4 separate regions of the Homo sapiens genome follow, and all the other regions are reported to be linked to region 1. The links are microRNA targets in miRTarBase. Many come from high-throughput screens and were not tested one by one. Region 1 holds a microRNA gene; each other region holds the end of a gene's coding sequence.

Region 1 (3,183 bases):
GCAGTAAGTTTTCCTGCCCTCATGGCTTTGGGGAAACTCTGATGACTATTCCGCTAGAAGGAGTAATGAGTCAAAGACTGCCCTTAAATCCTGCAAAAGAGGATCTGGAAAAAATACCTGGCACCCCCATGACTATCCTTCCCACCACCTGGTACAACCAGAAGTGAAAATGCCTCAAGTTGATGTTGAAACAATAACTCATCTCACCCTCCACAAAGGCACAGGACATCTCTCAGCAACAGAGATCTTTCCTCTAATCGGAAAGTACACTCTTTGGCTGGTAGTAACTATGGCTTTCAAATGTTGCAAACAAAATCTCAGGAACATCCAGTATATAGCATATGATAGTACACAAAAATGGTATAAAATAGTATAAACTTTATCTGTCAAGAGAAGACGTGTAGATTTTATTATGAAGTTATTCTTCAAGCTGATCATTATTTCCATAGAAGTTCTCCATAAAAATAATAAATTCTGAGATTATACCTAGCATTTATAGCTAATACAATTGATTACCTATTATATGGCAGGCATATTCAAAGAATTTACATATAGTTACTCATTTCATCTTTGAAACAACTACAAAAAGCAACTCCAAAGGCAGGCAGATAATTTGAGTTTCAGTCCCATCTTTTCCCATTCATTCACTCAGTAAATACTTACTGAGGGCCTAGTGTATAGTAAGCACAGGACTAAAAATACAGCCACTAGGACACATGGGGTCCCAGCCTTCAAGAGCTAAAAGGCCAGTCCTTATTAGCTGAGTGACCTTGGACTAGTCTCACATCCTTGCTCAGATCAGGCTCTTAAGGTTTACTATACTCTGAGGCTTGGAATGTAACCATCCTTCCTACTTCACAGAGTTGTACTGACAATCGGATGAGATAAGCCACGTGAAGGGCTTGGTATAGTACCCACCACAGAGTAAGTACTTAATGAATGTTGGCTATTATTACTGACATTAAAATGACATGCAAGTATAAGGGATGCTCTTATAATGTTCTGTAATCAAACCTAAAGACTAGACATACTATGATGTTTACTATGGCCTGGTCATAGCGAAGTCTAGTCTTTAGATGTGATTACAGAGCCCATTTCTCTTACAAGCCCATTTCTCTTATGCACCCAAATGGATACTTCTCACTTGGCAACTGACTCTTAATAATAGAAATAAGCCTCCCTGCATGAAAACCAGACACAAGTGCTGACAAATGGCTTAAAGGCACTGAGCTCATCTTCATCAACATTTTTAAAGAACAAAGCTGTTTCAGTAAGAGAAGGCAGGTGCTGAAGAACTGCCTTCTTTCTCTGTCTCAGAGTCAGGCTCAACTGGAGGGGAGAAGATTGGCCCTGGAGTGGGTTTATGGTTATGATAAGGTGGACAGAGAGGTAACTTCCTTTTTTTTTTTTTTTTTTTTTTTAAGATGGAGTTTCACTCTTGTTGCCCAGGCTGGAGTGCAATGGCGCGATCTCGGCTCACTGCAACCTCCGCCTCCCGGGTTCAAGCAATTGTCCTGCCTCGGCCTCCCTAGTAGCTGGGATTACAGGCATGTGCCACCATGCCCGGCTAGTTTTTTTTTGTATTTTTAGTAGAGACGGGGTTTCTCCATGTTGGTCAGGATGGTCTTGAACTCCCGACCTCAGGTGATCTGCCTGCCTCGGCCTCCCAAAGTGCTAGGATTACAGGCATGAGCCACCGCACCCAGTCCAGAGGGGTAACTTCTACAGTGTATGTGACATTAGGCTTTTGCAATCTAATGGGGTAACTAAGAAGGGTTTACCATCTATGAAGGGGTAACTTCTGCAATGTATGTGACCTAGGTGTTTACCATCTTCCTGTAAGATCGTGCAGCACGTTCAACAACATCCAGCATGGCAGCTAACTCCCTGAGCCACACGGGGCTGCGGGGGCTGTGGTTGACCAGGAATGAAGCCTTCTGCTTGAAGTTCACAGACAGCCCAGTAGGAAGCTCAGTGGAAATGACTCTGACTAGAGCTGCCATGTACCAGGCACTTCCTGCTTCACTAATGACCACCCTATAAAAAACAAAAGTGGCCTCTCTCGGCTCACTGGCTTATTGCCTTCACAACACTCAGTGCAATTGGTGCTTCTCTTATTTGTTGACTTGTGCACCATTTGTTTCCCCAACTAGAACAAACATCGGTTCTAAGAAGGCAGGGACCTTATGAGCATCTGGCATGTCACTGACATCTTAAGGCACGTTTGCTGAATGAGGAATTAAATAAATGAACGAATGACGTAAAATCTGCACAAAAATCCTGTGACACAGGTATTATTCACTCCATTATAGAGATTTAAAAAACCAAGACCCCAAAAGAATAAGTCACATGAAAAAGAGGCCACAGCAGTGAGTGGTAGAGCCAGAAGCTGAAAGAAGCTCAGGCCTTTCCTCTGGAGCCTCCCCAGGGTCAAAAGGGACCTGAGTGTGCCCTTAGAATGTCTGTGGCCAACGTGGACACTAGGTTTTCATGTCTTTCAAGTAATAATAATGAGCTTCAGATGTTTCTTCAATATCCTCCTAACCAACAACTCACTTAACCTTTTGTGGCCGTGTTTCCTCACTGTGAGTGATGGGGTTGATCACCAGGTGAGCCCAGGCTGGGGACAGGAGGCCTTGGCTCTGTCTTGGCTCAGCAGGTGGCAAGCTGGGCAGTTTGGGGCAAGTCATAGCATTTCTCAGGACTCAGTTTTCTAGCCTTGTGAAAAATGAAGGACCTTTGAGCTCCTTCCAATTCTGACTAGGTGTGGTTTTATGTTTAGACCAGTAAGGTCTAAAGGTGTATTCCCTGCCATGCCTCTAGGCTCTGCAGGGTTCACTTGAAGAAAGGGTTGAATGGGTTGGGCCTGGGTTCAGCTGCAACCCTGAAGTTAAGCATTTGTTGATTTCTACTTAGACAGACTTTGCATTGGAGATGGTATCTGAATGTCCTGGAGGTTGACAATAGACATTTTTAAAGGCTAAGGCTCCCAACTGCTGAAAACAAAGACAAGCTTGAAGCTGCTGTTGAGCTGCTCTGTGGCCTGGGAGCTCCCAGCTAAGTGGGCTGAGGTTCCAGGCGCTGCCCCCGTCCGTGCTGGCTAGTGAAGGCCTGGTCCCCTCCACAGACTGGGTTCCCAAACTGCTGTCTCCCAAGTGTGCACTACTGGTCATGGGGGGACTG
Region 2 (3,183 bases), not on the chromosome of region 1:
GCATTTTGACTTTAGTGTAGGCCATCTTCGAGTCCATGTTCAGCAAACCAACTAAACTGTTAAGAGTCCTTTCTAACCTCTCAAATATTGAATCCAGAATCTCTGCTGAGTGGGCCAATATCAATAAAGTTGTCCTGACTGAACTTTACAGTCCTACCACCATATCCTACACTCTAAGATCCATTCCCACACATATTCCCCAGATTTCTATCTGTATAGACTGGGAAAATCATGGAGTCCTTTTGGTGTGCAGGGTACCTCCTCATGGATCATAATTTGTACCTCACTCTTTGGTGCCTACTGGAACGTGAGTCTAGCTGTACATCTAGGAGCAAAGCAGGTAGCAAGGGCAGACCCTGAGGCAGATGAGTGATGCCTGGTAACGAACACCTCTGAAGAGACCATTACAGATCCTTCAGGCAAAGTAGGATTAACCTTCTCAGACAGAAGTAGAAGGGCTGCTTCTACCGGCAAGAAATACTACGCAGAATTTAGGGGTTCCATTTCACTGGCTTCATCAGGATCCTTTCTTATGTCCCCATTCCACTTTTCAGGATCCCACTGCTTCTCAATCAATGCTCTCACCTTATTTTTTTAAGAGACAAGGTCTCACCCTGTTGCCCAGGCTGGAATGCAATGGCAAAATCACAGCTCACTGCAGCCTTAATCTCCCGAGCTCAAGTGATCCTCCCACCTTAGCCTCTGGAGTAGCCAGGACTACAGGTGCATACCACCATGCCCAGCTAATTAAAATAATAATCTGTAGAGATGAAATCTTGCTATGTTGCCCAGGCTTGTCTCGAACTCCTGGACTTAAGCAATCCTCCTGCCTTAGACTGTACTATCTTATTATTCTAAGTTTTACATTTGGGGAAGTGATACATGTGAACCTTTTCCATAGACAACAAAGGGCCGGGAGTAGTGGTTCATGCCTGTAATCCCAGCACTTGGGGAGGCCATGGTGGGAGGACTGTTTGAGGCCAGGAGTTCGAAACTAGCCTGAGCAACATAGTGAAACACCATCTCTACCAAAAAAAAAAAAAAAAAAAAAAAGTTCTTAAATGACAAGGAAGTACAAATACACAACAGATAAAAGAGGAACACTCAGGTGGGGCTTGAAACCTATACTCTGCCTCTTTTCCTCCCTTCCCTCCAGGGACCCTCTAAAGAACCTCATAAGAACACCACTAGGGCTCCCCAGAGTAATCTAAAAGCCACCAAGTCAACTCTTTTTTTTTAAAGCTATCGCCTACAGGAAGAACAGTCAACTCTCTTTACATTAACTCATTATTTTCTTACAATCCCAATGATCTGCAGTACTATGTTCAAAAACAATCTGAGTAAGCCGGGCGCGGTGGCTCACGTGTGTAATCCCAGCACTTTGGGAGGCTGAGGCAGGTGGAACACCTGAGGTCAGGAGTTCGAGACCAGCCTGGCCAACACAGTGAAACCCCATCTCTACTAAAAATACAAAAACTTAGCTGGGCTTGGTGACAGGAGCCTGTAATCCCAACTACTCAGGAGGCTGAGGCAGGAGAATTGCTTGAACCCAGGAGGAGGAGGTTGCAGTGAGCCGAGATCATGCCACTGCACTCCAGCCTGGTGACAGAACGAGAGACTCTGTCTCAAAAAAAAAAAAAAAGCAACAAACTACATTCTCTTTTATTCCATATCCTTCTACTAAGGAGAAATGGGGTAAGGATTTAGTGGGATATACATAAAGTAAAGCTGTGTTTCTTCTATCAGTTAAAATTTCTACTGTTTTACTGATGAAAAGAGGATAGTTTTATTATGCAATAGTCTTAATAAGGGTTTGTTTTAAATTGGTTCTTATTGGTTGGTGAAAAGTAACTGCAGTTTTAAATGGCAAAAATCATTAAACACATAAGATATAAAACTGGGGCTTTGAGGTTATGAAGCTTAACTAAGTGTAACCATGCAATCTCTGATGGGTTGGGAGGCTTGGAGATTTAATTATTTTTTTCAAACGCTATTTTTTGGCAGAGGCTTCCACACCATTTGTAAATTACTTTTTGAAAACATTTACCAAAAGACTAAGGTACGACTACCACATAAAATTACTGTTTAGGGAGACAGAACTTCTGCATGAACTTTCCCCTTTGGGAAAAAGGGTTTAAAAAAACAAAAAGTAACATTTATTTGCGCCTAGGCTAATAGAAAGAATGAGACTAAACCCCTTGTTTGTTTTTATTGATTCTTTTTAAGATTGAAACAGACTATTACAACAATATTTGAGATTTCACAGAGAACTGCATGCTTTTGTTATTAAAAGACTTTTGTTGAAAAATTTGACCTTTACCTCTTATGAACGAAAGAAATATAGAGGTTTCAAGCATTTTTGCCAGCACAGAGTCATTCACAACAACCTTCTAGATGCTTATTTTCTACCTTTTCCTACAGAAGGTAATATTCAGTTACCAGAAGGCCATCTCCACCACTGAATGATTCAAAGCTTCAGAGCTCAAAAGTGATCAGAACTCACAAATTAGCATAATTAGTCCAAAGCTTGATTTAAATGTTTGAAGAACAGCAAACATCAAATAATATAATACCAAATAGAATATTATAGTCTCTATGAGGTAATAACTCATCAGCTACAACCACCTAAAACTGAAATTTTCTGTACTTAGTTTCTATTAGTACAACACCTTCATTCTTAATGCTTCTTAGGGCATCACAGGTTTTAGAAATTAATGTATTTTTAGCATTCCACAGTAATGATCACTTTCAAAAACTGCAATATACATCTGCATGTTACACTGACATACAACACATAAGTATTTTGTCACACATCAACTTTTAGCCTCAAATAATAGAATACAAAAAGCTACACTGGACATAACACCACAGAACTTTTGAATATCCCCTTTTCCCAATTGTTAACAGGTAGTACTTTTTTTCTAAAGAGAAAGTGATGAAAAATCCAAAATTTCTGCATCCAGTGTTTGACTCCAACTTTCTACTTTATCGTCTCCTGGTACCACCATATCCTAGAATGAGAGGGGTAAAATTTACATTAGTTTTTAAAAATGCATTAGAATTGCTTATAAAATTACAAGTCATACATGTTTATTGTCAGCAAATGAATGAGATAGGAGGAAAGGAAAGAGTGTGCCACTAGGTGGAACTGGGCTAAGCAGGACAGTGCATCGCCTCCCACAG
Region 3 (3,183 bases), not on the chromosome of region 1:
AGAGTGTCATTCAAAATACTGAAATGGAAAGATCAACAAAATTAATGAATAAAGAAAGTTTATTGGAGATTATTAAAGAAAAATGATAAAATAAGGCAAGTCCTAGATCAGATTTAAATACAATATTTAGAAAGATGGCTATATAATTTTAGCTAGGAAAATCAGTAAAAGGGAATATCCTTAAAAGTGGGAGGGGTTCATATAACCTTTTAAAATAGCAAGTTGAGGTGTAAAAGCATCACCAACAATAGTATGTACCTTAATCTTTACACAATTGGACAGTGAGGAGCAAAGTGGGAGATTCTACCAATGCCACTTACAGAACAGATTTTCAAGTTAATAAGTCATAAAATCCTAATGTAGTCATAGGCTAGGATGGTGACGACAATCTGCAATTACTGGTCAGAGTGAAGCGAAGTGACAGGTCAGATTTTTCAGCATATCAAGTTACTACTTAGGTATGCTTACAAAACTTTGTTAAATAAAGTTGGGTATTGTTAGTATACCCTTTACTAAATGGTGAGGATAGCTGCCAAAATAATCAAAAGGCTAATTATGTGTTAACTCTCATTTATTTTGGATTGCAGACATACTCTTGCCCTTTATCTATCTACACAATTCCTTATTACCAGCAGCTGGAATCCAGTTGTGCAATTATGGCAACTGGACAGACCTGAGCCGTCAGTTATGAGATAGATGACCTTTTAATTGTACTAGCAAACAATTTATAGACTGGAAGATTGTTTTTCGGGAATACCAGTTTAACTGAGACTTTAATTATGGTCCAAGAGCTTTTATGAGAAATTCAATCAAAAATTTTGCTTTAGAAAAATTTTATAGGTATATGTTACTAATACTGAGAATGGTTGAATTAAAAGAAATTGAGACTGAACAGTACATTTCCACTGGAAACATAAAGCTCTGAATGCTGTGACTGAGTGAACAAAGGAATAGTTCTAAATTTTCTTTTGCAACATACATAACAAAAAGATTTCAAACTGAAAGACAACAGGTTTAACTGAATGACAGATTTAACTACATAGTTTTCATTCTATAAATAAATAACTTGTGAAATATCCCTGAAGTCAGTGGACAAATGGGGAAACCATTATTTTTGTCATATTCTACAATTCTGAGAACTAGGATTAGAAATTCTAGGACTTTAAATCTTTGTGCTACAGAGAACAATATTATCCACTAAAATCAGGAAGTGGCTTCCTGAAGGGTATTCATTCTCTGAGGTCATACATTTTTTTTTTCTTTATTCAAAACACTTAGTAAAGGAAAAGGACACAAGGAAATTCTGATTAAAGTCTTCTCCTGCTCTGTTTGCAATTATACATGCTTTCAAAGTCATTTGAAAGTAAGACCATTTCCTTTGGCAGGTATCTTGTATAAAGTAACTTTACAACATATGTTTCTTGAACAGAAACTTTACACCACTGTCATTATGTTACCTATAGAGACAAAACTACTAACACAAGTAATATGGGCTTACAATTATAACACAAACCTGTGAGAGGGCATGATAAAATTAAATTTTGATTGCCTTCTTTTATTATTATCACTACTACTGTCTGCTCACAAATTCTGTGGCCAGAGTCCATTTCAAATCCTTCTAAGAGTCCACTTCATGAGTTAAACATATACATATAGAACAAAGCAGGTATACTGTAATTTTTAAAAGTAAATCTGTTTTACATAGTACAGCTGGAGGCAGTTTAATATAATCAAAAGTTATAGCTCTAAAAAATATGATAGTAGAATATTAAACCTCAGGTTACGTTAGGTTTGTTAACTCTTGATTTGCTTTGAGTAATTTTTTTCTTCAAAAGCCACATTCCAAGAAGATGCCTTAAGTATCAATGAGCTATATTTGAAGTACATCAACTCTGTTTAAAGCTGTCCAACAATAAGGACACAAGCAGTAAAATATCTGAAGCATGAAACATGTAATGTTGATGACTAATGTTCTAGATCATCAGGAATAAGATTAACGAAGAGCAAAGTAAATCTAAAACAAGGAAAGGGAAGATACATTTATTAAAAATAAAAATAGTACACAATCTCTGATAACAAAAAAAGCATTTAGGGTCAAAAGACATCCAACATACATTGTAACAATGCACACATATTAATTAAAAAAAAGACCCATGAAATAATTTTTAAAAAACTTTCAAAAGGAAAAAACTATTTTGGCTTCCTTCTGCTGAAATTCGCCTATAAACATACCACGCCAGCTAGACCAGCATTCCCTTTCACGTGGTCTGTACAACATAGTACTGCACAATGTGAGCAATTACTTTGATGAACACATTGTTTTTGAATAAAATTGTTGGTTCTGTATGGATGATCCAGACATAAATCCATGGTTCCATTTCACAAAAATATTCATAGGCTGGAAGAGCAGTGACAACCATTTTCCAAAATCTTCAGTTTTAACAAAAGGCGCAGAATAAACTACTAAATCTAGATGTTTTCACATTATTTTGCATGAGTGTCAAATACTATGTAAAAATTAACGTAAAATCTTAAGTTGGCCAAAACTAGTGTCTCTAAAGATCAAAATTCTTCACTCTTTTAGCATGGCTGATAAATCTTTTCTGCCTTTGTCACTAATGCTTGTCAAACCAAAGAACTTTGCAAAAGAATATGCACTGCTGAAGGAAGACAGTACCAAAAATACCATATTGAACTTCGGTCTTAAGACACACACAGTTCCTGTTGGATACTGGACTGTGAAAGTTTATTATCTTCAGTCTTTTCATGTCCTGGAGCATGGCAAGTAGTCTTCCGCTTAAATAACCGAAGACTCAATCGAAGTAATTCATTGTCTACCATTGGAGCACTCGTGTAAGCTTGTTTTATGGTGCCCTATTTGAAGAAAACAAAAACAAACTTTAAAAAAGATGTACATTATTAGTAGGAAAGATGGGCAGGTTAACCTCTACCCAAAATATCAAAGTTATAAGAGTATTTCATTTTGGATATTAAATTAGCTTTATTGGATTTCAAAGCAAAATTAGAAAATGTGTTTGGGCTCAATGAATCTTTGAAAAGAAACTTTTAGAGGGCACCTAGTTTAACCTCTTGCTTAAAGTAGGAATCCTCTCAACAATTTCTGACAGGTAATCAACCGGTTTTTACTTTATCATTTCCAATGACAAAACAAACAAAAAACAC
Region 4 (3,183 bases), not on the chromosome of region 1:
TTTGAAACGCTGGAGACTAAAAACCCCAGCTGCATGGAAGAGCTGTTCTCAGACGTGGACAGCCCCTACTACGACCTGGACACAGTACTGACAGGCATGATGGGGGGTGCCAGGCCGGGCCCCTGCGAAGGGCTCGAGGGCTTGGCTCCGGCCACCCCAGGCCCTAGCTCCAGCTGCAAGTCCGACCTGGGCGAGCTGGACCACGTGGTGGAGATCCTGGTGGAGACCTGAGCAGGAGCCCTGAGTGCTCACAGCCGCCTCTGACGCATTGACACGTGAGCACTGGCTCCCACGGAGGGTGCGCCTGCCGCCAGCGGCCCAGCCTTGCTGCCCTGTCTGCTGATTCTGAGAAATCCCAGAACAGCCCATTACCAGTGGGGCTGCAGCCCTAGGCCCGTCCCACTCACCTCCCCCCTGTGGAGCGCCAGGCAGAGGCTGTTCTGGAAGGCTTCTTGTCTTCTGACGTCCCCACAGCCCTGGGCCCCTCGTGTCTCTTTGTGTCCCCCACTGTAGAGGACGGTGAGCCGCAGCTGCATCAACCTCCTTTTACCTTTAGATAGGTGAATTTTTACAATTCAGTTTTACATGTTTTGGGCAGTATTTTGTCTTAAGATATATTTTTTAAACTTTTTATACCTTATCTCTTTAGATTTTTTCAGCTATTTTCTTAAAAGTATATTTTTTCTATAAACATCCTTTGCTGCTACATTAGAACTTTTATAGCCTAAACAATTGCAGTTGGTGTGTTTCATTTTTTTAAGGTTTAAATAAGGGTTTTTTGTTTTGTTTTGTTTTTTGCAGTGAGCATCACTACAGTCTCAGTCAACAGTGTGAATGTATCATGTTTTACTTTAAATGTGTGTGTGATACTTCTTCATTATGTCCTGCGCTGCAGTGAGACCTGGGTGAAAATCAGGAGCCGCACACAGCCACATCTTCCTAGACCTAAGAGTAAATTATGGAGGATTTTATTTATGTCTATTTATATGTAAATGTCATTGAAGACAAAGGTCAAATATTTGTCTGTTTGTAGATCACAGGCACCAGTTGGTCTTCAGGGACCTCATAGCCCCTCGGTGGTGCCTTCTCAAGGCAGTGTTCCTGGAGGCTCCCATCAGGGTCAGCCCATGCACCTGCCCTGGGTGAGGAAGTAGCATTGCTGCTGGATGAGAAACGCCTGCGCTGCTCTGTTAGACTGGTGCTGAAACAAAAGGTTAAGGCTAGGTTGAAGTCTAGAATGAAAGAAATCTGAATCCATGTCATTCATAACCCCTTGATCTGTAGTGTCATGGGTGCTGCCGCAGGCAGGGAGTGAGCTGGGGGTGCCTGCAGCCTTCCACTCCTGCCCCGCCTCACCCCACATGCTCCCTGTTTCTCATGCTTTCTCTAACTTCCTCACCCCTTAACCAAAAAGGTGTGTTTTCTTTTGTGCATATAGCCATTCTTAAATATCAGTGATGTAAACCTCACTTTATTAAAAAATTATCCAGCAAACAAAATGGGAATGTGGTGTTAGTTACGACCACGGCCTGACCCTCCAGCAACCTTTCTGCAGGATCAGTTCTGCTGTATTATCTGGTGGTGCTTTCTAAGGTGGGGAAAGGAATTGCACTTGGCTGCATTAAATGGACGCTGGGTTACTTTTATTTCCCCCCCCCACAGGGTTGCAGAGCAAATTCTTTTTACATTGTTCAGCGCCCGGCTGGAGTTGGGGGTGTCCACGACCTCTGACAGCCCCCGATGTCGAAAGTTAATCCTCATGGACCCTAGTTTAAAGGGTATGTGTTTTATAGGAATAAATCTAAAGCACTATTTTGTTTCTGTATAGCATTTTTATCTTTTAGAAACATCATTTGTTCAGCATTAGTAGTAGTTGTAGTGCCTGTTTTGGTAGCCTTCAAAATTATAAACTGCTCAGAGAATGTGACTTTTGAGCGCTTTAGGGGTGCTTGGTCGGAAAACAGACTGGGTCTGTGGAAGGACCACAGACAGGAGAGAACAGCTGCTGTGACTTAGAAGTGTAGCCGGAGTCTCATTCCCTGGACTCGCCGTGTTCACCTGTGACACCGTACACCAAAGCCTGCTTGTTTCCACCGTGGTGCGCAGTGGCTGAGTAATCAGCTGTTTTCCAAGCATCATTTCTCTGCAAGTTTAGTCCGTGTGTGTGGCTTTGTTTTTTTTTGTTTTTTTTTTTTCTTTTTTTTTGATGGAGTCTCGCTCTGTCTCCCAGGCTGGAGTGCAGTGGCGCGATCTTGGCTCACCGCAACCTCTGCCTCCCAGGTTCAAGCGATTCTCCTGCTTCAGCCTCCCAAGTAGCTGGGATTACAGGCACCCACCACTACGCCCAGCTAATTTGGTGTATTTTTAGTAGAGACAGGGTTTCACCGTGTTGCCAGGATGGTCTCGAACTCCTGACCTCATGATTCACCTGCCTCAGCCTCCCAAAATGCTAGGATTACAGGCGTGAGCCACCGCGCCTGGCATTCTTGGTTTTTTGACAGGATTTAACTTTTGTTGCCCAGGCTGGAGTGCAATGGCGTGACCTTGGCTCACTGCAACCTCTGCCTCCCAGGTTCAAGCGATTCTCCTGCCTCAGCCTCCCAAGTAGCTGGGATTACAGGCATGTGCCACCACGCCCGGCTAATTTTTATATTTTTAGTAGAGATGGGGTTTCACCATGTTGATGAGACTGGTCTCGAACTCCCAACCTCAGGTGATCCACCTGCCTCGGCCTCCCAAAGTGCTGGGAATATAGGCGTGAGCCACCGCACCTGGCCATGTATGTGGTATTTTTAAGTCTGTAGGTACAAATTGACTTTAATTGGGAAGAAATTTTCCAAGTGTTTAATAATTTTGTTTACAAAATGTTTATTCAGAAACAGAAATACAAATTCCAGTCATCTAAACTTGGCACTGTTCTCTGCGGTTTGCTTCTGGCCAAACTGAGGGGAGCGGGCATGTTAGTTGACAGTTTCCCAGGGGCGTTTCCTGACGTGTGGTGGGTACCCCTCACGTGCAGCATGCCTTGCACACAGCTTCGGAGCCCCTTCTACCTCAGAAGTTCGGTTTCTAGGGTTATAAAGTAATGCACGTTTATTTGAAGACATGGAACCAGTATGAAGATAGCAGACTCCTCCCAGGGAACCGATCTTCCTTTCAGGGGTGACAGCGCACCTTGGAGAA

What was found. The annotated mature microRNA hsa-miR-4744 reads UCUAAAGACUAGACUUCGCUAUG and lies in region 1 at 1,055-1,077, opposite strand. An mRNA with a match to its seed (bases 2 to 7 or 8) in the 3' UTR can be bound and repressed. Matches are read on the target gene's strand: a 7mer-m8 pairs with bases 2 to 8, a 7mer-A1 pairs with bases 2 to 7 and ends in A, and an 8mer does both.
Region 2: miRTarBase lists SARAF as a target of hsa-miR-4744. Seed matches in the 3' UTR shown: 8mer at 2,921-2,928.
Region 3: miRTarBase lists ZC3H13 as a target of hsa-miR-4744. Seed matches in the 3' UTR shown: 8mer at 2,555-2,562.
Region 4: miRTarBase lists CDCA4 as a target of hsa-miR-4744. Seed matches in the 3' UTR shown: 7mer-A1 at 551-557 and 8mer at 643-650.

Annotation. Positions count from the first base shown.
Region 1 is chr18:49,048,683-49,051,865 of GRCh38, forward strand. MIR4744 (microRNA 4744) reads right to left here and starts at 1,086; the gene lies at 1,005-1,086. The region is part of intron 17 of DYM (dymeclin); the gene reads right to left.
Region 2 is chr8:30,060,903-30,064,085 of GRCh38, forward strand. It overlaps SARAF (store-operated calcium entry associated regulatory factor), which reads right to left. Exons shown (of 6, transcript NM_016127.6): 6 at 2,101-3,011. The coding sequence ends at 2,986. Among named protein-coding and RNA genes, the nearest start is that of SARAF, 21 kb to the right of the region's middle.
Region 3 is chr13:45,954,424-45,957,606 of GRCh38, forward strand. It overlaps ZC3H13 (zinc finger CCCH-type containing 13), which reads right to left. Exons shown (of 19, transcript NM_001330564.2): 19 at 42-2,874. The coding sequence ends at 2,704. Among named protein-coding and RNA genes, the nearest start is that of ZC3H13, 97 kb to the right of the region's middle.
Region 4 is chr14:105,008,252-105,011,434 of GRCh38, reverse strand. CDCA4 (cell division cycle associated 4) reads left to right here. Exons shown (of 2, transcript NM_017955.4): 2 at 1-1,862. The coding sequence ends at 231. Among named protein-coding and RNA genes, the nearest start is that of CDCA4, 11 kb to the left of the region's middle.